Linked DNA regions of Homo sapiens. The protein of the gene in region 5 purifies or fractionates together with the protein of the main gene of each other region. This does not show direct contact. Each region holds a gene or a part of one and is shown on either strand. Other genes may lie near its edges.

Region 1 (3,500 bases), on a different chromosome or scaffold from region 5:
GAATTGAGTTCTCTCCACTCCCACCACCACCCAAATATACACTTTAAATGCACAATTCACGTTTTCAGAATGATAAATGCTTTGTCTGTTAGCTTCCCTGGTAGATTGGTTGGAGCATTTTCTAGAAAGCTTACCAGCACCTGGTGTATTCGGAAACTCCTGTTCCCACCACAGCATAATCCAATGCTGCTGTAATAGATTAGAGTGGGGGTCAGAGGCCCAGGAGTCCATCCATGGAAGAAGGTGGTTTTTGGCCAACACAGGTTGGTATGGATTATCTGAAGGATCCCATGGACTCTAGTCCCTTGTGGTTTCTTACTGTTTATCAGCATATGCTCACCTGCCCCATCTGGCAACCCTCATCTGACCATCTGGAACAGATGCCCATCTGTGTTTCTCAGAAATGGACTCATTCTCCACTCCATTTGCAGCTGATAAGCACTTTGGACAACAAGCAAGAGAGCTTTCCTCAAACTCAGTTCCTGTTCCCTGCTCCCCCATAATGTTTATCAGTTTGATAACTACTTTATAAGTGATTGTGTGAGTGAGGGCAGCTACCTGAAGCCATTATAGGCAAAATTACCTACCATCTTTCTAGCCTCACATTTGACTCCAATTTGGAGAACAGCATACAGATTATAGAGGGAAAAGTACTGCGTTAGACCTGTCTTATTTTAGAAATAATAATTAGTATTGTGTCCTTCCCCAATATATCCACAATTACTTTTTAAAATAGGAAAACTTAACATTTGTATAACACAGGCAAGAGTACTTTCATATCATTCTCATTTGAACTTCACAATTCTAGGGCAAAAATCACCTTTAAATATTCGCTCTCACTTTAGTAACTTTATTGCCAAGTCTTGTTTCTGAGACCTTGCCATTGGAGGCTCCTGCTTTCTGTTCTAATTACAGAAGATAATGCATTTCTTCCCCATACCCTCTCTTGCCTCTGCCTGAAGGCACAGGGTGTGCAGGGGCCCCTTTTTAGCATGTGGCTAGAGACCCGAAGCAACTGAACCCCCAGAACAGATGCTCCCTCATCTCAAGGAAGCAGTGAGCTCTTTGAGGATCTTGAAAACAGATTGAGAGTCTCCAGGGCCTTGATTTTTTTTTTTTTTAATCTACCTCCTCCCTTCCCCTTTAGAAATAAGTCACGTTAAGAGTATTTCTTCACGGCTAACCTTTGCTCTTTTCTTTCCTCCATTCTTTCATGTCCTCTAGGTGTTTGTAGAAGTCTATAATCTGACTGCAGACCCAGACCAGATCACTAACATTGCTAAAACCATAGACCCAGAGCTTTTAGGAAAGATGAACTATCGGTTAATGATGTTACAGTCCTGTTCTGGGCCAACCTGTCGCACTCCAGGGGTTTTTGACCCCGGGTAAGTTTCCTTTCTCTTCATTTACTTGGCCAAGTTTTTTCTAGTAGACATGCTGTTCTTGAAGGCAAAGGGAGCCCTTTTTGCTGTGAGATGATGATTCTTCTGCTTTAGAGGGAATACTGTGTTCTAATTGCATCAGCCCGTTGTGCTGGGAAAATCAAGCTTTTGAAACTTTTGTTCTCCACTGCCAGTTGTTACTTTAGCCAGAGGTACAGCCCTGCTCCCCACCAAACATGGGGCTCTTGTTATTTTCGTGCTGTGATTATTGTCATGGTACCACTTGTTTGCATTGGTGACACTTGGGGCTTCTTTAAGTAAGCTGCGACCCACTGCTGCCCTGTTCACCTGTTCCCTAGAGCTTGCAAGAGTATATGCCTTCATTTCATTTCTCAGAAACCCCTACTACAGAAACTTGAATGTTTGCTGGTGAATTTAATATATTAAACACACAATGAAAATAGAAGGTGTAAACTCAGATGTTGAAATATATAAGCCCATTGCACGATATGGAGGTATAAAGGATGTTTAGCTGTCACCTGCTATGTCAGATTTGTTCCCCACACGGTCCTTCTTAGTAACTTTTCAGCAGTAACACTGGGTGTCAGTACACCATGCATTTGAGCTGCTGGTGGCAGGAACCTTGTCATTTATCTTTTGCTTGAAGATCATGAAGTTTAAAAATCAAACTTTCACTGGGAAAGGAATATTTTAGTTCCTACCTTCAGACTGTAAGAGAGGGAAGAATGATGTCCTAAGTTGATGGAAAGTTATCACTTAATTTTTTAGCCGTCTTTGTATTAAATTTTATCTTTAGTCCAAATTAGAGACAAATGAATGTGAATGAGTAGAAAAACTCGATGATAGACTGTTCATTGTTTGCTTTTAAATAATGTATATAGTGCCAAAGTGGCATGGACACCAGTAAACTAAAGCCAGGTAACAATATAAAAAGATAATATTTATTATTTTATATCACTTAAATGAAATAACTGTTTTTATATGGATAATCCCATTAGTACAATAAGAATGGTCAAGAATTTTGACCATTGGTCTTTCCTTTGGTCTTTCCTCCAAGTTAGTGAAATAGATCCTAGCTTGGTACCAGTTACCTGAAATAGGAAGTCCAGTCCCTAAAATAAAAGCACAAGACTTCCAGTTTACATGTGCTGACTTTGCAATTTCCAACAGTTACTTAGCTCAGAATGTTCTTTTAAACCAAATTAAGTTAGATGTCGATAGCAGTTAATGTTTTTTAACCATGTACTCCCTGGCTGACTCTGGGAACTTAAAGCCAGCATCTGATTAAATCTTAAATGGAGGGTCAAGGGACTGGACCTCTTGGATTATGATGTGTGGCCAAACAGTCCCTGACCATGCCACTGCTAGGACATGGACCTGCCAGGCTGGCATCTGGTTGGCCAATGCAAGGTAGATGGAGCCAGCTGTCTGTTTCTTCTGAACATCTGGCTCTAAGTGTTAGAATTCATAGAATTTCCACACAGCCCTTAGAGCCCAAACAGGTAAATTTCAAATGAGGAAACTGAGCTTGCAGTTGTGATTTGCCCAAGGGTCACCCTATAAGGAAGTGAATACGTTATTTCCTAAGCAAGTTTTGTTTGGTTTTTAACTGCAACAAATTGTCTTCCTCACATTTTAGAAGCTTATAACTAAAGTGCTAGATGCTGGCTTTGCTGATGTTAGCATGAACTACTTAAACTTAACCTGATTTTCTGTTTTAAATTCCTTAGCCCTGATTATTCCTTTCCTATCAAACATTTGGGCCTGTTAGCCTGAACTACTTAAACTTAACCTGATTTTCTGTTTTAAATTCCTTAGCCCTGATTATTCCTTTCCTATCAAACATTTGGGCCTGTTGAGTCCTCCAAAATGGGGTCATCAGACCAGATCCTGTGAGCCCAATCTAGCCCCACCTGCGGGAACACAGCCTCACACATTCGTTTACCTGGTTTTGGCTGCTTGTGTGCTTCAGCAGCAAAGGAGAATGGTTGGGACAGAGACTGTATGGCTCCCATACCCTAAAATATTTATTATCTGGCCCTTTACAAAAAATCTTGGTCAATTGCAGTTCTAAAATGCAGTAGTCCCCCCTTATCC
Region 2 (3,500 bases), on a different chromosome or scaffold from region 5:
TTAGTTTCCTTTTCTTTTATGGATACAGATTTTATCTCAACTCTGACTACTGGTTCACAGTTTGTCTATGAGAGAGGGTGAGTAAAAGAAGGATTAACTTAGATAATCCACTTTTACCAGAAAAGCAGCTCATAATACATGTTCTCCTGAGGCCTGTAGTTATCATCTTCAAAAGGGAAGGGTGCCTTAGTTCATGTGTGCTGTTTTGAAAAGTTCATGTGTGCTGTTTTAAATGGCAGGGCATACCATTTAAAAAGTCTTCATTAAAGATATGCTATAATACTTTAATTTTTTAAAAAGTGTGTGTGTGTGTGTGTGTGTGTGTGTGTGTGTAGGGGATAGAATGTGAAAGTTCAGTGGACTGGAGTAAACTTTGTCTGTTTCCAAGGTAGGTCTTCAGGTCTTCTCTGGGTCTCAGTCTCGATTCTGTTATCCTGCTCTGGGCAGTTATTCCAAATTACATGATTATTTGCTTGGCTGCAGGCCAGAGTTGCCCATGTTGGTATGTCAAAAAGCCTTTGAGAAAAGCAAAAACAAAATAGCCTATTTTTTTGCTTCTAGTTTGGTTATGCTAAAAGACAAGTTACATCTCATTCCTACCCTGCATACAACTAGAATATTTTTGTCATTCGGCATTAGAGATGTCGTGTCACTAATGTAGTATAAACTGATTAGAATTTTTTCAAGCAGGCTTAGGGTTTTACCTAATATGCTGTGTATTTTTTTGCCTTCATTCTCTTTGTGATGGTAACTAATATGCTGCATTTAATATGCTTGTAATTATTCATTGGAGAGTTTATGTGCATATGTATAAAGTTATTGTTACTTGGAGTTTTTTTAATTGGTTATGATCTGAACCATATTGTTCAAGTGGGAAAAGTTAGGCTTTCAGAAAAATCAGTAGTTTTAGCTCTGAAAAAGCAAATGAAGTTTAATTTTTAATTGACAGAAAGAAAGAGAGAGGGAAAGAAAGAAAGAAGAAACAAAGGATGGGCATTTATTATGTTTTCTGTGATAATCTTTGAAGCAGTTATCAGTTAAGCCCAAGTTAATTTTTCATTTTGTTTTTGTTGGATTTGGAAGTTTTATAGTTTAATGTCTCAGGTTGTAGAAAACTTTGCAGTTATTTGTCCCATGGCGTACTTTATGGAATGCTTTCAATTCTTAACTACTATTTAATAGATGTGAAAGTTTTGACTTGTAATTTTTTAAATTTGTGAAAACAGGCTCTTGGATTGAGGAGATGATCAACAATCGAAATAAATCAGTTGTTCGCAGTATGAGCTGGAATGCTGACGGACAGAAGATCTGCATTGTATATGAAGATGGGGCTGTGATAGTTGGTTCAGTGGATGGTAATGTATTGATTGGACATAGAACTAAGATCAATATCTGGCTGACAGTTTTCTTCTTTAGAGATTTAAGTTAGTTACCATATGTTAGCATTCTGATTGAAAAATAGACATAAAAGGGAAACTATTTGATATACAATTTGACGACATTCAAGAACCGTTCTTTGATTTTAACCATCTGTTTTTATGTATATTCAAGGAAATTTTTTTATTTCCTACAGTGGCATTGAAAAAATTGAATTAACTTTTCAGCATTATTTTAAACATGTCTGCCTCATTATGTAATTTCTTTTTATATTGGTTAGTCTGTACAAATATATAGACTTTAGTTTCAAAAAGTCTGTGGTCGTTTTTATTGGAACTGAATATGTCATTGTTGGTTGTAGTTTATAGCCTTAAAAACCTGTATTTTTCAAATTCTAGTAATAGATAAAACTGGGTCTTCTGAGAGTCTGCACCTTTGTTTTAATTTGAAACTCTGTAGATAAATAATTTATTTTAAAATCATTTTTATTTCTCTCTCTCGCTCGCTCTGTGTGTGTGTGTGTGTGTGTGTGTCTGTGTGTGTGTGTGTAACTTCATGTAGTCAACAAATGTTTCTGAGAGCCTATAAAGCAACAGCTATCATTTTAGGAACTAAGGGTACAGCAATGACCAGACCTAGATCAGGAGAGATGGATGAGTAACTGAGAAATTACAGTATCCTGTGATAAGCGCTAAGATGGGGAAAATACAGGAGCATGTAGAAGTGCCACCTAATGCAGACTTGGAGGGATCAGGAAAGGCTTCCTGGAGGAAGTGATGCTGATGCTGAGGCATTAGCCACAAGGTAGGTTGGTGTGTAGAATGTCTCTGCCCTAAGAAGTAGTATTTGAGGAGGTCCAGAGGAGTTGCACTTAGCTATGTTTGGGCCATTGAAAAAAGTTGATTATCAGTAGGGTATAATACTAACAGTGAAGAGTAGTATGCAGTGAATCTAGAGAGAGAAACAGAGGCCAGATCATGCAGATCATAAGTTATATTAAGGTGTTTGGACTTAAGTCCAACAGCACTTGGGAGGCCAATGAAAAGTTTTAAGAATGGGAGCAATGTGATAAGATTGTTCTTTAGAAACATCTCTGTGCTACATATGAAGAATAGAGAAAGGAAGGAAAGATAATGGGCAGCTGTATCAGGAAACTGCTCTGGCAATTCAGGTGAGAGATTATGGTGGATGGTAGCCATCCAGGTAATGACAAGGGAATGGAAGTAAGTAGATTTTATACATACTCAGGAGGCAGAATAGATAGGATTGGGGATGAGAGGATGGAAGTCCCCAGGGCAGTATCCAGAGTTTTAGCTTGGGCAGCTGGATGGATGGTAATGCCTTTCATTAAAATAGTGTGGAGAAAGATTGATTTTAAGGGAAAATTCCTCTGTTGGATATGTTGATTTTGTCATGCCATAGGCCATTCAAGTAAATCTATCCAGACCATAGTTAGACATACATATCTGCAGCTCAAAAATGTCTGTGCTGAACACAAAATTTTGGGAACCACCAGCATATGCATGGTAATTTAAACCATTGAAATAGTTGAACAAAACTAAGAGGCATTTGTAGAGTTAAGAATCAGCAACATTTAGGCTGGGGACAGTGGCTTATGCCTGCAGTCCCAGCACTTTGGGAAGCCAAGGCGGGAGGATTGCTTGAGCTCAGGAGTTTGAGACCAGCCTGGACAACATAGCAAGACCTTGTCTGTGCTAAAAATAAAAAAAAAACAAAACAAATTATCTGGGCGTGGTGGCATACTCCTGTAGTCCCAATCACCTGGGAGGCCAAAGTGGGAGGATTGCTTGAGCCTGAGAGGTTGAGGCTGCAGTGAGCCATCATCTTACCACTACACTCTAGCCTGGGCAAAAGAGTGAGACCCTGTCTCAGGAAAAAAAAAAAAATCAGCAACATTTAAGGGATAGGCAGAAGAAGGATGTCGAGAAATATAAGAGTCTTAGAGATAAAGGAGTATATGGGCTAATGGCAGCCAAGAGAGTTCAAGAAGGAGGGAGTGGTAAAAAAAAAAAAAAAAAAGTATCAATTGGCTTTAGCAACAGGCCATCAGTGACGTCCATGAAGGCAGTTTCTTTCTTTTTTTTAAACAACAGAAATTTATT
Region 3 (3,500 bases), on a different chromosome or scaffold from region 5:
GAGGAGACAGTGGGTTGAAGCCCATCCTTTGTTGGGGCAGGAGAATTTCTGTGTATCAGCATCTGAGCATAACAAAGAAGAGGGGGTAGAATTCCTGCAGAAGGAAAGCACACATCATATAATGCCTGGCTGTTTCCCTACTTGTCCTCTGCTGTCTCCCTCATAGAGCAAGCTTGGGAAGTCTTGTTCTGAGCCAGTGCTCCATAGTCATTGGAGACACAGACCTGCAGGCATGGGAAGAGCTCTGGGTGCTGTGCGCCTGGGAGCAGTCCCCTCCCCTGTCACACCACGGTCGTCCAGGAGGCAGGACTGGCTGGGGTGAGAGACTGCAAAGCCCTTTCTACAGAAACCATGAGATGCTGAAAACCCGCAGTCCTCTTATGAGCTCTTTGGTTTGTGTCTGGTCTGTCAGTGAAGGTCCACAGGTTGGCTTGTACTGGCAGGGAAGACCTTCAGCAGAAGCCTCAATCTGAAATGGGGTCTGACGTTTTTGGAAGTTTTAACTGTTCTCTCCCTCTCCTGCATCAGGAACAGGGGATTAGTGCTGCCAAGATTGAAGGAAGAAAGTAGCTGAATTAGAGGACTTCCAGGGTTTGGTTCAGCAGTTTTTGGGAAGCCTAGCACTAAGCGGTTGGTGGCAGAACTTCCTTTATTTTTCTGTTAACATAGTCCCTTTTGTTTTTTTATGTGTGCAGTTAAAAGAAATGTGCCGTCGGGAACTCGACAAGGCAGAATCTGAGATTAAAAAAAACAGTTCTATCATTGGTGACTATAAGCAGGTAGGTTCCAGTACCCTGGGATTGGGCTGTGTAATCTGGGAGCCCCTAGTCTGGATAAAATGTATACCCGCCCCCCACCCCCAAACCCAAATGCAAGCACCCTGGTTTCAGATCCTGGCTCTGCCCCTGCACTGACAAGTGGCTTCACTTATTCTCAGTTGTAAAAGAAGGAAAATCATCCCTGCCTAGGAAGGTTGTTACGAGGATTTAAAAAGACCATGTTTGTAGAGTGCCTGGCAGTGCCCAGCACATAGTAGGTACTTAAAACCACAGTATGTTTTGGTATGTATTTCAGATTCAGAATTACGAACTTTTGTTTACGTGTAGTTTTAAACCGGTTATTTCCCTGACTGGTTGAGTTTTAAGAACATAACAGAATGGTCTTGTTCCCTCCTACACTAGGATCTCTTGCTGGCTCATGAGTCTGGCAGGTGTTCAGAAACCATTGGCCATTGAGTGTGGTGCTGCTTGGTTTCTGCAAGTCCTAGGCCAGTGAATGCAGAGGCGGCATAGCTAGAAGAACCCCTGCTTATCCATCGACTTCATATCCCCTCCTGAGCGGTAGCAGGCTATTTGCTACTATGTTAATTCCAATTTACATATTCCAGCTTCCACTATGGAATTTATGCAGATGATTACAATTGCTCAAGAGATTGTTGTTTTATATTTGTTTCTTTAGATTTGTTCTCAGTTGAGTGAAAGATTGGAGAAGCAGCAGACAGCCAATAAGGTGGAAATTGAGAAAATTCGGGTAAGACTTCTCTTTACCTAAAAGATTTTATACCACCTACTTCATTTTATGGCTGTATAAACAGGTTTTGGGAGGAGGCAGTTGATTTCAAAAGTGAGAGAATCTAAGCAATAAGGCACCTGTCACAGGTCCTGGCTCAGTAGTTGACAACTAACACTACGCCTGTTTTCTCTGGAAGGGTGTACAGATGAAATCAAACAAGCTCTAGCTTTAGATCTCAAAGTGCAAGTGCCCCATGATTTCCAAATGTCTGTAAGGCAGTCGATGTCCGCAGTGTGATGCTGAGGAGAAGGAGTCATGCAAGTGATAGGTCTTGCTTGAGGTGGTGGGAGTGCAGAGGTCAGAATCATGTGCTGTGGCTTGTCACTTTCCAGTGTTGTTCTGAGTTCATGCCTTCTGCTGTAACACATCCAATTACAATGAGGACCTTAGTTTATTTTTATTTTTTTTTATTTTTAGAGACAGGGTCTCACTATGTTGCCCAGGCTGGCCTTGAAATCCTGGGCTCAAGCGAAATCCCTCCCTCAGCCTGAGCTGCTGGACTCCAGGTGGGCACCATTGCGCCCAGTTTAGAACTTTAATTGTTTAATGTTTTGTTGGCAGCTTAGGAGTTTTTATAACATGGTGCTTTCTTTCTTTAAGTTCTACCTGTATTACAGAACTTGTCAGATTTTACTAAGATAAGCAATTTACTGAAAAGTGCCTCACTAACATATTTACAGCTCAGAGGACAGGAACTTGGGAAAGTTCTGTGCTCATGGCTATGTTTGCGCAAAGCAACATTACCTAGAGCAGGATGACACTGGCCTTCGTCATAATTAATGTTTAACCAGATGTGTGTGTGTGTGTGTGTGTGTGTGTGTGTGTGTGTGTGTGTGTGTGTGTGTGTTTGAGACAGAGTCTTGCTCTGTCATCCAGGCTAGAGTGCAGTGGCGCCATCTCGGCTCACTGCAACCTCCGCCTCCCAGGTTCAAGCTATTCTCCTTCCTCGCCTCCCAGCTAGCTGGGATTACAGGCTTGTGCCACCGTGCCAGCTAATTTTTCGATTTTTAGTAGAGGTAGGGTTTCACCATCTTGGCCAGGCTGGTCTCGAACTCCTGAGCTCGTGATCCACCCGCCTTGGCCTCCCAAAGTGCTGGGATTACAGCTGTGAGCCACTGCGCCTGGCCAACCAGATCTGGTTTTTAAACAGAACTTATTTTCTGATTCTAAAACTTTAATATTCTTGCAGAAAATTTGGAAAAGAAGAGTAAATAAGGGAAAAAAGCCCTTATGATCCATTTTCCACATATAACATCTTTATTAATACTGTGGTGTGTATTCTTTCAGTCTTTGTTCAGTGTTTAACGTCTAAAATTTCATTCATTCTGAGATAAGCATTTCTTTTCACATTTACATCTCTGAAAGTCGGATGTTTTATAATTGGCTTTTTGTGGTTTAATTGGCAGAATGTTTTCTTAGAGGAACATAAAATGACATTTCTTACAGTTAATGGCATCTTATTTTGATGAAATGTGGAATACATTTTATTTGTAATCATAGTTTATGTACATTTTTGTGTTCTATTTCAACCAGCATGCATCCATTTTCCAATGTTATAAAAGTTCCTCAAAAACCTTTTAGAGGCTGTGTACTTCCTTGTATAAATATAGCACAGTATATTTAATATTTAATTGTTTTTGAATAGTTTATCCCCTGCTTTTTTGCCTGTCTCCAGTTCTACAGTGAAAATTTTTGTACATAAATTTTTATCTAGTTACAGCTTCATTTTTCAGCCTGGGTTCCTAGAAGTGAGATTACTGAATCAAGACAATGATAATTTTATTATTTTTGGTGTATAATACCAAGTGGCTTTTCCAGTAGGTTATCTGCCAGTTTACAAAGAGCACAGGTTTTCAGAAACTGTAGTGCTCAACAGAGAAGCCGTCTCTTGGTGTCCCCCAAAGGAGATGCTCACACCATCCTAAAGG
Region 4 (3,500 bases), on a different chromosome or scaffold from region 5:
TTTTATTTTTAGTTCTGGGGACAAATAAGTTTGGTATGGATATCAGGACCAGCCTTCTCATCCTCCTGTGTGTTTGTTGCCTGTTGACTCTGGAAATTTGTAGAAGGAGGAGGTATATTATTTGATTCTTTCATTTTCTGAAGTGAAAGTCATTGTAGTTAAAGATAGAAGGGAGGGAGAAATCTTTAGTATTGGGTATCTTACTTGTAGTTCAACCTCCTTTTCTTCTAAGTTTTCTATAAACTTAGAGATATAACCAACATTCTTCCTTCCTCTCTTGTTGGTACTCCTTTATATATTTCTGACTTGTAGGAATGGTGGGATCTAATAATATTGTTAGAAAAATGAGTTGTAGAGTGAAGCTGCCTGAATAGAAAATTATCCCCTCTCATTCTGACATCTCATTTTGCTTCTCATTTTTGAAGTGTAACTACCTATGCTGGTTTACAGTCTTTTTTTAAATGAATTTAAAAGTAATGTGTGTTCATTAAAGAAAATTTTGAAACTAATGAATAGCAGAAAGAGAAAAGTAACTAGAATAAGTTTAATAGTTAGGGACCTTATTTTTAGCTTTTATTTAGAATTACTAAAGTACATATATTAACTACTTTTAGTTAAAACTAAAAAATTTGTTTTATAATATGGAATTTGATATGTATATCTTAGTCATGCTTTTTTTTAGGTAAAAATTTTGCACACTGATTTGAAGTTTAGGAAGAATTTCTTGATTTGTAGCTTTGAGACACGAAGGACATCCTATTTCATATCAAATAGGATATCAAAGGGCTTTTTGGGGGTTTATGGGATATCAGGGAGAACATAATGCATGATTTAGTTTGTAGTTTTAAAATCTAGGATATTATTGAAATTCAATTGATGAATTTTTGAATTCATCATTTGAGTTTTGAATGTTAGATATTGGATTATCATACAAATTTTTGTTAAGTTTTCTGTTAAATACTTTTTTTTTAGATGAAGTCTGAGAGAAAGTGAGTGATGTGTACATTTGATTTTTTTTTTTTTTTTTTTTTTTTTTGGAGACGGAGTCTTGCTCTGTCACCCAGGCTGGAGTGCAATGGCGTGATCTCAGCTCACCGCAACCTCCGCCTCCCAGGCTCAAGCCATTCTCCTGCCTTAGCCTCCTAAGTAGCTGGGATTACAGGCACCTGCCACCATACCCAGCTAATTTTTGTATTTTTAGTAGAGATGGAGTTTTGCCATGTTGGCCAGGCTGGTCTTGAACTCCTGACCTTAAGTGATCCGCCCACCTTGGCCTCCCAAAGTGCTGAGATTACAGGCATGAGCCACTGGGCATGGCCACATTTGATAAATTTTAATAAACTGATTAGTAATCAGAAAGTAAGGGGTAAGGCATTAGAAGTGGCTATAGTGGTTTTTATAATTATCTTAATATTTAATACTATAATACATTTGTTTAAAAATTCTTTCTAGCCATTATTCTTTTAGCACTTCATATGCAGATACATATGTATACCTGTTAGTACATTGTCTGCATTACATGATGAAATTCTGCAGTAGTAACTTGATGTAGACATTGGGTATATATAATATAAAAACTCAAGTTGTGTTTATTTCAAATGCTGTCCTTTTTAATTAAAATTTAAATTTTAGTGTTTAGATTTTATTTGAGAGGCTGGAAATATAAGAAAATGAAAATCACATTTAGTATATTTTTCAAGAAAAGAGTTCAGTTTATGAATTTTGGGTGTCCCAGCTCCAACTGAACTTCTGAAACATACTAGAAAAAATTTGCTTCAGTAATAATACATGTTTTTATTTCTGTAGCCTATGAGGTAATGTCTTAGAAAAAAAGAAAAAGTTTTGCAAATTATTTCCACTTTTTGACCATCAAATTTATTACTAAAACAAGAGACTAATAATTTCTTACTGTTCTTTCTGTGGATTAAAATAAGAAAATATTCAGACTTCTTAGATGAGACATCTCATTCACAGACTTTGGTAACTGACAGATTGAAGTTAAGGTTTCTAATTTTCTGTATTTTATATTTTTGTACTGTAATTATAATTGGATTTTAGGGTGAGTTTTTAATAATAAAGAGATGATAAAATTTATGCTAGTTTATCATGTTTATTCAGTGTTTTTCATTTAGATTACTTTCAAATGTTTGTAGTGATCAATAAAAAGGTAACATAAATAATGGGTCATTCCAAATTATTTGAATAGAAAATTTTTGATAAACTAAAAATGAATTACAAATTGAATTTTGTCACTAATCCAAATTTAGGTTAACAAAAATTTACTTTTGTTTATATTCTTGTTCCAAATCTTATAAAATGCCATTAATTATTTTCAAAACATGGGAAGTAGTGTATGCTAAATATAATGTTTATATTTTATAATTGAGTACCTTGGAGTACTTTAGTCATTTTGAACATCAGCTCTTTCTTTTTTTTTTTTTTTTTTTTTAAGAGACAGGACAGGAGAGTCTCTCTCTCTCTTTTTTTTTTTTTAAGAGACCCTTGCTCAGGCTGGAGTGCAATGGTACAGTCATACATAGCTCACTGAAGCCTTGAACTCCTGAGGTCAAGTTATCTTCCTGCCTCAGCAATTCTTGTTATACGTAATATAGACTAAAGCGCCTGCTCTAGAAATTTATCTTCAAAAATGAAACAAAATAGAACAAAGGTTGTGATTTTAGTTTATCTAAAATGTGGAGTTTCCTTCCTCTTGCCACCAGATCAGAGAAAAAATTTTGTAATGATATAAGTTGATTGAGATTTTTTATGGCATTTTGCGTAGGAATATATATTGCACAACTAGGCAGTTATCCACATTTATTATCCCTGAACTTTGAATTATAATTTTACATATGATGAGGCTGGCTAAACTTTAATGGTATTTTTTATTTTAGAAACCTAGTAAATACATATTTACATTTGTAATTACTTGCTGTAATCTTACATTGAATCAGTTGTATTCTGTTTCGTGTATTGTGTCCCCCCCCCCTTTTTTTAATAAAGGAAGCACTGTGACTGTTTTTATTTTAAAGACTTTTTTTTTTTTTTTAAGAGCAGATTTAGGTTGTCCCCTTCTGCCACACATGCATTGCCTCCTCCATTATCAACATCCCTCCACCATAATGGTAGATAGTTATAATTGATGAAGCTACATCAATACATCATTATCATCCAAAGCTGTGACTTCTTTTAGTAATAAAAAGAAGTTTCAAAAATATTACACTTTTGGAGATAATATCCTGTCATACTGAAAAGCCAAAATGTAACATTCATGTATCATATTTTTTTCTTAGTTGAATACGGTATAGGATTGTTATGAAGAGAAGATAAAACTTTTGAATCATTTTAGAAGATAATGGTAGTATTACATTGTTTCCTTATGTAGTTTTTGTACTTCTTTTGGCTTGGTACCTAATGATTATCATATAGATTGAGTGTAGCTGTTTGAGGAACTACTATGTTTTGGATTATTTTCTTTGAGATAGTAAAAATACTTAACA
Region 5 (3,500 bases):
ATTGTGAATATATAATCTTATAGTTCTTTTCAAGCAATCTAATAACCTATAATTGACATAATAGACAGTTAATATAGCATTATAGTTGCTGAACAATATTTTAAAGCCTTATTTCAAAGTTACCTGAATAATACCACAGAAGAATATTCCAAATTTTATGGAAAAAGGACAGTTACCTGCTAATGCATAAATTCCTTTAGAACAATCTTGGTTCTTTCCTGAAAAGTCACCACCCATAGTCTATATTTTAAAAAGAAAATAAAGAACAGACATTACTCAGGAATAACTCTTAAGAATTTAGTTCACAGAATTAAGCTATAAGGAAAAGAAACTGTAGCTTCGTACCAGAATGTAACTTTAATAAATTACTTACATGAGTTTTTCCACTTCCAGTCTGCCCATAAGCAAAGCATGTAGCCATTCCCCTTTCAAATATAGTTTCCACTAGTGGTCTAGCAGTAAACCTTAAAAATAAAATGCATCAGTCAGAATGTGTCACCAATATTTTGATGAATAATAGTAATGCTGAGTAATACAAAGTATTTTATTAATAAATAAAACTTAATAGCAAGATTCTAAACAAATCTTTGTTAAAAATTTTAAATAACAATATCGAAGAATTGATTTAAGAATTTTAAATATCATATGCTAAAATTACTTAAACTACTTAAAGCATAATTTCAAGCAATATTTCCATAATAAATAATGGTCACAATAAGGCATATACAATAAAAACAAACACAAAGTATTATAATTTCAACAGAAACAGAATAAACAAGAGTGGTAATCTCAATTTTAAAAAGTTAATAGAGGAAAAAAACTGCAAAAATATTATCTATAGACCATCTAAATAAATAGAAAAATGTTGATTACCTTGAATTTAGACAAGTAATTTATACTTAAGCAAAAAGAATATAAATTGTGCTTGTAGGAAAATGAATTCTATTAGTAAGTTGACACTCTCAATTTAGGAAAAGGATACCTAAATATTATGGTTTGAATTACATTTTTTTTTTTTTGAGACGAAGTCTCGTTCTCGTCCCCCAGGCTGGAGTGCAAATGGCGCGATCTCAGCTCACTGCAACCTCCGCCTCCCGGGTTCAAGTGATTCTCCTGCCTCAGCCTCCCGAGTAGCTGGGATTACAGGCACCTGCCACCACACCCAGCTAATTTCTGTATTTTTAGTAGAGACGTGGTTTCACCACGTTGGTCAGGCTGGTCTCAAACTCCTGACCACAGGCGATCTGCCCGCCTTGGCCTCCCAAAGTGCTGGGATTACAGGCATGAGCCACCGCACCCGGCCTTGAATTATATTTCAAATGTATTGGTATAACCCACTGCTAGAGTTAAAATAAAAAGGTGGGAAGGTATAAGAAGTACTTTTCCCCTGAGCAGTACACTAAAAAGTATGATGGAGGCCAGGCGTGGTGGCTCATGCCTGTAATCCCAACACTTTGGGAGGCTGAGGTGGGTGGATCACTTGAGGTCAGGAGTTCGAGACCGGCCTGACCAACATGGTGAAACCCCGTCTCTACTAAAAATACAAAATTAGCTGAACGTGGTGGCACACGCCTGTAATCCCAGCTACTCAGGAGGCTGAGGCAGGAGAATCGCTTGAACTGGGAGGCAGAGGTTGCAGTGAGCCGAGATCATGCCACTGCACTCCAGCCTGGGCGACAAGAGCAAAACTCAGCCTCAAAAAAACAAAAAAAAAAAAAGATGGAAAACAGATCTACAAGTAGAACATTTTATATAACTGCTGTCTTTGTTTTGTTTTGTAAAAGGCAAAACTGAAGAAAGTACAGAACAAAAGGAGCAGGAAAAAGTTCTGGTCAAACAGAACTAGGGATGAGCCTGCTAAGTAGATCAAACCCCTACCTCCCAACCCTACCCACAAAAAAACATGTAACTCCTCAATCCATAATAGTTAAGTATAAGAGATAGAGGAGAAGGATAAATATTGATAAAGTTAAGAAACATAAACATAGGGTAAAAACACAATGTTTACTAAATCATACACACAGAAACATGCCTGTATTTGTAATAATTTCTTAAAAACTATTATAAAAGTCAAACTTATATTTTATGAGGCAGGAGTAGAAAGAGGGAATGAAAAGGAAAAGTGGACTCTTCAGAAAGCTAAAAAAAAATTCTACAATTAACAATTATGATTCCCCTTTAAACATATTCTTCACAAATATCTCTATCTAGTATTCATATGTCCTTTAATTTGATCCTTTTTTTTTTTACAACTGACTACCCAGTACACTTGGTGAAGACAAAAAGAGTTGGTCTCAAAAGTATTTCCTTTGTAACACCTTCAATTCTTAGTCTCATTAACTCTAATTTTTTCCTTTCTAGGCATTTTTATGAAAAAGGGCAATCAGATATAGTATTCAAGCAATTACAAAGACAGTAATATTCCTAGATAAACCAAAATAACAATACTGCTAAAACTGGTGTTATAATTATTAGAAATGAATGTTTGCAAACTTACGTATGAAAATCTAAATCTGGCATAAAAATTTGAGATACCAATGTATAACACAGATAAATTTGAATTATTTTTAAGTTGAATACAGAAAACATACAAGAATCTCATGTACTAAAACTATCTCCAAGCTTAAAGATGACAAATTTAAATACAAGTACGGAACTTTTTCGCCTTAAGTGACAATACATACTAAATACAGATTTAGATAAATTAATAATTAACTGATAACAGGTATTTTGGCCAGGCATAACAGTGGCTCATGCCTGTAATCCCAGCACTTTGGGAAGCCAAGGCGGGCAGATCACTTGAGCTCAGGAGTCTGAGGTTAGCCTGGGCAACATGGCGAAACCTCAACTCTACAAAAAGTACAAAAATTAGCTGGGTGTGGTGGTGCATGCCTGTGGTCCCAGCTACTCAGGAGGCTGAGATGGGAGGATCACCTGAGCCTGGAAGGTCGAGGCTGCAGTGAGCTGTGATCGTGCCACTGCACTCCAGCCTGGGCAACAGAGCAAGACCATGCCTCAAACAAACATTTCAAGTTTCTTTATTAGTACAGAGATTAAAAGGTAAAAATTAAAAGTCTTCTTATCATATCCTATTCCTAGAGGTAATGTTAACATTTTCCCGAAATTTCTTATCCATATACATGGTTTGTGTGATATGTATATATATGTATATATATGTGTAATAAGCTAATTAGCAAATAGTAATGGAAACTATGATTTTGGGGAGCATTACAGAGAACAAGTGTTAATATTCATTACAGCATTTATTACATTCTCTTTGTTTAAACTCAGAATAAAACAGCATATTGCACCTCTTAAGAAATATCCCACAATCAATGTAAATTTCAAGGTGCTGATGACCACATGGCATAAGAACAAAATTCTGATTTAAAATGAATTTACCTACCTGTAAACCATTTCATTAGGAGCTGAGTCATCAAAGGCATAATCAAAACGAAATGTTTGGTTTTCTAGGTACCTTGTTAAATCTACTTTTTGTT
Region 6 (3,239 bases), on a different chromosome or scaffold from region 5:
GAATAGTGTTTGTCCACAGAGGAGCCAGACTTGAATTTAGGACTGAGTGTCCAGCTTTCAAATAAACACTTTTTGCCTGTTGTAGGTGTTCAGTAAATGTGTGTGGAGGAACAAAGCGTAAATGAGAGTGGCCTTTTCAGTGTAAAATCACTTAGCTCTTTGATCCCCTTTTACTTGGTTAATCTTCACTTTAAGAGCTATTTATATGGTTAAAGAACTTACTAAACAAAACATTCTTGGAGTTATTTTGATTATCTCCAAGTTTCTCTTTCTTACATTTTCACCAGTTTGTAGGTTCAGTGAATACTCTTTTCAGGCCAAAGGGCTTACCTTTAAAACCTCACCTACCACACACGTTCAGCCTAGTACCTTGCAAGATGAGTCAGGCAGAGGTGAAAAAGCCCTTCCCTGTTCCTGTATCTTTGGATACGGAAACAGGCGTGAACGTTGCTGAACGTGGACCCTGTAGTGAGTAAGAGCTGTTTGTTAGTGACTGAAGGTCGTGGTGTGTTGTCTGTAGGAAAGTGTCTTACTATTCCACATCCCTCATTTGCATGTGGGGAACAGACAGCCATGGAAGAAAAGAGATTTGCCCAAACTAAAATAGGGGGAGCCACAGCCAAGACAAGAACTGGCCTGGTCACTGGTCTCTACCGCTTTGGATCATTGCTATCTCTGAGCATGGACAAGTTGACTGTAGAGAGCTTTAAAGGCTAAAAATATAATTGGTATATTAAAAAAAAAGTAGAGAAATAAGGTGAACATGATTATGATTGTTAAGACAGTCTCAGGGGAGGTGTTAAACAAGTTCTTAAAAATTGAGTAAAGCACCTCTCACTTGACACCAAATGGATAATAATAATGTTAGGTGGCACTAAATGTGGCTCAGATTAATACTAAACAGCCACTTTTCTACTGGAAGAAAAATGAGGCAACCTAATGATGACCAAGGGAAATTGTGAACTGTCCATTACTGAAGATAGGCTTGGAGTGGATCGCCCTCATGGTTTGGAGGGATGCTTTTTGTCTTGCCTTAGTGTTGGCGTGAGAACAGATGACCTACTAGCTCAGAGTCGGCTGTGTGGCTTTGAAAACAATGGAAAGTAATGACACATGGACTTTTCAAAGCAAAGATGTTTTTTAAAAAGAGACCAATAAACAGTGTACAGAATTGCCTGGCTGAAGGTTTGGGTGTAGCTACTGGTGTTTGCTAACTGAGCTTTCCCTCATTGTGGGATCACTGCATAAATCTGACTCCAGATTTTTTCCACTGATGTGATTTTAGCAGTTTTGTGAAAAGAGAACAGGATAGTTTTATGTTCCTAACACTGCTTTCTAAATTTCTAAGAGTGCCCTGATTCCTTGGTGGACACCGTTCACTGAACTTAGTTTGTCTTGAAGTGGCCTCATGTTGATAGGATAGTCACACTTTTACACTTCTTGGGGCAGCTGTAGGGACTTAATTGGATTCAGAGTAATCCACATGTGACTGCTTTTCGAAACCGTGCCTTCATTTCTGCAGGCAGCAGCACAGGGATGCTTCAGAGCTGGTGCGTCCTCCGAGCTCACACGAGCTCATTTGGTAGCACGAAGTGGCCACAGGCACGGCAGCTGCTCAGCTCCTTTGTCCAGCCTGGGTCCCAGGACCCGCACTTCCTTGGATGCATCATGAGGGCTTCTGTTTCTTTCCTTGTGGTTTCAGGTTGAGTGTGTTTTGAGTTTTACTAATTATGTCAAGAAGAAAAAACACACTTTTTACAAGCTTGGTGGGATGGGGAGCAAATTGAGTGTCAGAGCTCCTAAATTCAAGAAACTGACTCAGTAAATTTGGTTAAACTGTGGAATTATCATTTGAGGTCATTAAAAAAATAAAGCAAAAAACTACCTTTTCAAAATATCCGATGAAGAGAGCTCTGGGAGAGAACTCAAGTCCTCGATGACTCCCTCTCTGCATATTAGAACATGGAACCCGCAGGGGTGATAGCATGAGAGCGCTGGAGACAGGGTGCGCAACCCCAGCCTTCTGTTTTGACTTGAACCAACAATGGAAACTTTTCCCCCCTTTCATTGCAGGTGTCTCTCCTACTACAGTCAGCTGCAGCTCCTCCCTGGGAGATTGTCAAGTGCTGTTAGTTCACATGCGCCACCTAATTAGTGGAAGTCTTTTGTTTTCCTCCCATTTTTGATAACAATCGCAGAGGGGCAGTGCCCTCAGGGATCCAGGTGGGCTGAGTTTCGCCTGATGGTGCTTCTGTGCTTACTTACCTTTCTAAGTGAAATGATTTAGACTTCAGAAACATTGGAACAGTTGGCAGTTGCTGTAGACTTTTCTCAGCAGAATCAATTAATGTTGGCCTGATGTTAGGTACGTACAAGTTTGATCTCATTTGATCCTGTCATTTCAAATATTTTAATGCAATTTATTTTTTAACTAGGTACATGTGAAGATTTTTTGGCAGCTTAGCGTGGAAACCATTGATCACCCTGCTCTCATTTCTACCTGTTCTGTGTTGGCAAGGGAGAGTGCCCAAATGAGCAAGATATCGCAGCAAAACAGCACTCCAGGGGTGAACGGAATTAGTGTTATCCATACCCAGGCACATGCCAGCGGCTTACAGCAGGTTCCTCAGCTGGTGCCTGCTGGCCCTGGGGGAGGAGGCAAAGCTGTGGCTCCCAGCAAGCAGAGCAAAAAGAGTTCGCCCATGGATCGAAACAGTGACGAGTATCGGCAACGCCGAGAGAGGAACAACATGGCTGTGAAAAAGAGCCGGTTGAAAAGCAAGCAGAAAGCACAAGACACACTGCAGAGAGTCAATCAGCTCAAAGAAGAGAATGAACGGTTGGAAGCAAAAATCAAATTGCTGACCAAGGAATTAAGTGTACTCAAAGATTTGTTTCTTGAGCATGCACACAACCTTGCAGACAACGTACAGTCCATTAGCACTGAAAATACGACAGCAGATGGCGACAATGCAGGACAGTAGACCTCACCCTTTCCAGACTTTAGAGCTTGTGGCTTGAATGTTAAAGGTGTGACCACCGACACCACTCATGTCAATGGCTGAAAGTTGTCCATTTCCATGACTCAAAGACCCATTGGAGGCTATTTTCTGGGATCAGCACTGAAGAGTTGATTAGCTAAAAATGTTAGCCTTGTAATTCGAATATCTGGTTTTAAATGATAGAGGTTTTTGTGGGAATCAAAATCCCCCAAATGTTAAGGTATATGGTAAAAAAAG
Region 7 (3,500 bases), on a different chromosome or scaffold from region 5:
ATTAAATTAGTATTAAGTTCTTTTTTAAAAGTCCTGGTTGAACTAAGATTGTAGGCAGACATTACTGTCACATGTGGTGCAGTCTGTTGACTTTTATATATTTTTTAAAACCTTCAAATGTAAAATCTTGAGATAAAAGCAAATGTTTAACAATTGGGATTTTTATTAGAGTTTAATACAAATAATGCATAGTTTTTCTAAGTGTACGTTTTACATATTCTCAAAGGGTTCTATTAGATATAAGTAACATGATGAAAACTGAACATGATTTTAGACGTTGATATCTAGTAGGGTTTTTTGTTTATGGAGATCTTATATTTTACATTGTGAGCTATGGATTAGGTTTTTCAAGTGGCCAGTATGTTTTAAAAGAATGTGTTCTTAACAAAGCTTATCTTAAATTGTTTCCTTAAGATGCCTGTGTGTTACTAGTGAGGTTTTTTTCCTGCAGACACACACAAGCTAAGACATATGGTTCTATCTTCAGAAAACAATATGGTGTTTAGAGCCTAGGTAGGTCTTTAAATATTCATTACCTACAGTATTACTAATTTATTTGATGGTATTTAAAGTGGCAAGAATTGCTTTGATGTTGAGCCTAAATTTCTATTTGTCATATAGTTGCTTTAAAGGTCTGTTTTCTGATGTTCTTCATTCTCATTTGACATTTATTTTGGGGTATTATGCATTGAGTAACTTGTGATCTAAAAAAACAAACAAGATCATGCTGTGTAATACTGGTGTTGGAACTGGACTGTCTGACACCTGCCTTGTGGGACACACATTTCAGGCTTGGGTTGTGTGTATCTTTGTAGTGCAGTGATTTGATCCATGGTATATCTGAATCTACAATATGACACTAAATTGTAATAGTGTTTTATTGTAGCTTATTTTATTTTCTTCATCTATCGGATGCACCAAAATTGCTAGGAATTCGTGTAATACCATGTTACACAATCCCTTCCTTTAAGGCTATTCTTTCTTCCTGGAAATAAGCTAATGATTTAGAGTATAATCTGAACATCTAAGAACAAAGCAGAAGAAAATTCTATAAACTATTACAAAATTGACTGGCTATACCATGGATTTGGCTATACTGTGGCTATAATCAAGCCCCTCATTCAAATTCAACTTAATCATATTCTTTGTTTCTTTAAAGTAAGAGAGAGAGAGTGAGTGTGTGTGTGTGTGTGTGTGTGTGAGAATATCTCATATATATAGTTGGTCAATTTAGTTGTACCTCCTGCAGCTATCTTCCATCATGCCTCCTTCCTAAAATGAAATACTGTACCGACAAATTGAACAATTAATTAGAGATCTATTGAAGGATATTATTGCAAAATCTCTTCTTGTATAGGACTTGTCAAGAACAAAAGCAAAACTATTATGGAAATTTAGCTATAGTTTTTTGTGTGAAAGTGCTGATAATTTCAGCCTTGGTAGGGCTACTCTTTTCAGAGTGAGAGCACATTCAGTGTTGAAAAAGTGTCATTAGTCTTCTGAAAGGCATGATATTCTTAACTTAAAATTCTGCCCAGTCGGACACAGGAAGTAGTTTGGCAATGTGAATTTCTGCCTACTGTGAAACTGCTAAGTTTTTAGCCCCAAATTGGATTTTAACCCTGATATTAGAGATAAAGGTGTCATTTTCAGTTTTTAATGCTTCAGTTCCTACAGTTCCTGTTCTTAGAAGACAAAATAGACTCTAAGGTATGCCTCTTCTGAATTTTTTCGTTGAGTTAAAAATCATTTTGGAATTTCCTAAGTGTTTACTCTTTGAATTGACCTCTCAATACAAAAATTAGAGCCATTTATCTTTTTTCTGTTATTTTGTGTATGTTCTTTAGGTAGCAATTATATATTTAAAGACTTGGATCTTTAGCTTGACTATTTCATAACCAGAGCAGAAAGAAAGTGAAGTGTAGAAGCTATAATTTGGAACGAATAAAGATGTCATTTCAATGAACTACCAAGAGATGATCTTACTAGGTCAGGCATTGAACTTTGTCTTAAATATTTTTGTTAGTATTTACTTTGGGACAGATTATTTTATGATACTGTAAAAGTACTTAAAATAGAATAGTACAGTATTTTAAAAGCTATACAATACGTCTCTCAAGTGTTATGATGCACGAAGGCAAATGTAAATGAAGAGGCAATCTGAAATTTGGGTACAAGAACTCAGTAAAAGAAAAGGCAGTCTGAAATTTGGGTAAAGTTTAGGTGAAATTATATAGTGAATCATGGCCTTTTAATCCTGGTAAATTAAGATATTGTATGTGTTGTTATGGAAGGCCTTTCATGTTAGTTTTTGAAATTTAGTTTGCTGCTTAACATTTAACTTTTAGTGGAGATAATTTGAAAAATAGGAAACCTTAATACTGGATTTTTAAATAAATATTTCATGACATTCTAAACTTAGATATTAACGTTTTCATCTTTGCTTTCAGTGCTAGAAATGTAAATTAATATATCTAAATATGCCTCTAGAAATTCTTCAAGATCTGTAACTGGCGGGAAATAGGTTGACTTAGAATAAAGATTTTTTTTTTTTTTTCAGATGGAGTTTCGCTCTTGTTGCCCAGGCTGGAGTGCCATGGCGCGATCTCAGCCCACTGCAACCTCCACCTCCCGGGTTCAAGTGATTCTCCTGCCTCAGCCTCCCCCAAGTAGCTGGGATTACAGGTGCCCGCCACCATGCCTGGCTAATTTTTTGTGTTTTTAGTAGAGACGGGGTTTCACCATGTTGGCCAGGCTGGTCTTGAACTCCTGACCTCAAGTGATCCACCTGCCTCGGCTTCCCAGAGTGTTAGGATTACAGGTGTGAGCCACCACACCTGGTGGAATAAAGATCTTATTAAGCAGTGACGGCTTTTTTTGTGACTATTAGATATAGAAGGTAACTAATTCCAATACAGTTTTTCCTGAAGAAATTGATGTTTAAACAGTAATGGAAATTTAAAACTATTTAAATCATTTAAAATGTGTTATATTAAAATGATAATTCTATTTTAATTTTGTTATTAGCTAGCTTCAATATGTGAAAACCAGTTTTATCCATCCTTCTTTTCTCTTAGAAGTGAGCTAACTAGCCCTTTAGGCAAGGAGCATAATGTTTAGAAGCTCAAGATCACTTGTTCGTTTCTTTCTTTCTTTCTTTCTTTCTTTCTTTCTTTCTTTCTTTCTTTCTTTCTTTCTTTCTCTCTTTCTCTCTGTCTCTCTCTCTTTCTCTCTTTCTTTTTTATTTATTTTTTTGAGATGGAGTCTCACTCTGTCGCCCAGGTTGGAGTGCAATGGTGCAATCTCGGCTCACTGCAACCTCTGCCTCCCAGGTTCAAGCGATTCTCCTGCCTCGGCCTCCCGAGTAGCTGGGATTATAGGTGCGCGCCACCATGCCCGGCTAATTTTTGTATTTTTTGTGGAGACAGGGTTTCACCATGTTGGTCAGGCTGGTCTCAAACTCCTGACCTCATGATCCGCCTGCCATAGCCTCCCAAAGT

What was found.
Region 1: the proteins of KIF2A (region 5) and GNS purify together in Homo sapiens (affinity purification with mass spectrometry; one large-scale study listed by BioGRID and IntAct). This does not show direct contact.
Region 2: the proteins of KIF2A (region 5) and WDR35 purify together in Homo sapiens (affinity purification with mass spectrometry; one large-scale study listed by BioGRID and IntAct). This does not show direct contact.
Region 3: the proteins of KIF2A (region 5) and RABGAP1 fractionate together in Homo sapiens (co-fractionation; one large-scale study listed by BioGRID). This does not show direct contact.
Region 4: the proteins of KIF2A (region 5) and MTF2 purify together in Homo sapiens (affinity purification with mass spectrometry; one large-scale study listed by BioGRID and IntAct). This does not show direct contact.
Region 6: the proteins of KIF2A (region 5) and CEBPG fractionate together in Homo sapiens (co-fractionation; one large-scale study listed by BioGRID). This does not show direct contact.
Region 7: the proteins of KIF2A (region 5) and TIAL1 purify together in Homo sapiens (affinity purification with mass spectrometry; one large-scale study listed by BioGRID and IntAct). This does not show direct contact.

What each region holds. Positions count from the first base shown.
Region 1 is NC_000012.12:64,717,907-64,721,406, reverse strand, and holds part of GNS (N-acetylglucosamine-6-sulfatase precursor), read left to right. Parts: intron 1-1,224; coding exon 1,225-1,385; intron 1,386-3,500. UniProt on the Homo sapiens protein: Hydrolyzes 6-sulfate groups in N-acetyl-d-glucosaminide units of heparin sulfate and keratan sulfate.
Region 2 is NC_000002.12:19,976,606-19,980,105, reverse strand, and holds part of WDR35 (WD repeat-containing protein 35), read left to right. Parts: intron 1-1,226; coding exon 1,227-1,355; intron 1,356-3,500. UniProt on the Homo sapiens protein: As a component of the IFT complex A (IFT-A), a complex required for retrograde ciliary transport and entry into cilia of G protein-coupled receptors (GPCRs), it is involved in ciliogenesis and ciliary protein trafficking.
Region 3 is NC_000009.12:123,098,020-123,101,519, forward strand, and holds part of RABGAP1 (rab GTPase-activating protein 1), read left to right. Parts: intron 1-695; coding exon 696-779; intron 780-1,458; coding exon 1,459-1,530; intron 1,531-3,500. UniProt on the Homo sapiens protein: May act as a GTPase-activating protein of RAB6A. May play a role in microtubule nucleation by centrosome. May participate in a RAB6A-mediated pathway involved in the metaphase-anaphase transition.
Region 4 is NC_000001.11:93,120,783-93,124,282, forward strand, and holds part of MTF2 (metal-response element-binding transcription factor 2), read left to right. Parts: intron 1-3,500. UniProt on the Homo sapiens protein: Polycomb group (PcG) protein that specifically binds histone H3 trimethylated at 'Lys-36' (H3K36me3) and recruits the PRC2 complex, thus enhancing PRC2 H3K27me3 methylation activity.
Region 5 is NC_000005.10:62,358,206-62,361,705, reverse strand, and holds part of KIF2A (kinesin-like protein KIF2A), read right to left. Parts: coding exon 3,407-3,500; intron 465-3,406; coding exon 374-464; intron 241-373; coding exon 177-240; intron 1-176. UniProt on the Homo sapiens protein: Plus end-directed microtubule-dependent motor required for normal brain development. May regulate microtubule dynamics during axonal growth. Required for normal progression through mitosis. Required for normal congress of chromosomes at the metaphase plate.
Region 6 is NC_000019.10:33,376,709-33,379,947, forward strand, and holds part of CEBPG (CCAAT/enhancer-binding protein gamma), read left to right. Parts: intron 1-2,435; 5' UTR 2,436-2,531; coding exon 2,532-2,984; 3' UTR 2,985-3,239. UniProt on the Homo sapiens protein: Transcription factor that binds to the promoter and the enhancer regions of target genes. Binds to the enhancer element PRE-I (positive regulatory element-I) of the IL-4 gene. Binds to the promoter and the enhancer of the immunoglobulin heavy chain.
Region 7 is NC_000010.11:119,590,465-119,593,964, reverse strand, and holds part of TIAL1 (nucleolysin TIAR), read left to right. Parts: intron 1-445; exon of another isoform or gene 446-513; intron 514-1,847; exon of another isoform or gene 1,848-1,989; intron 1,990-3,500. UniProt on the Homo sapiens protein: RNA-binding protein involved in alternative pre-RNA splicing and in cytoplasmic stress granules formation. Shows a preference for uridine-rich RNAs.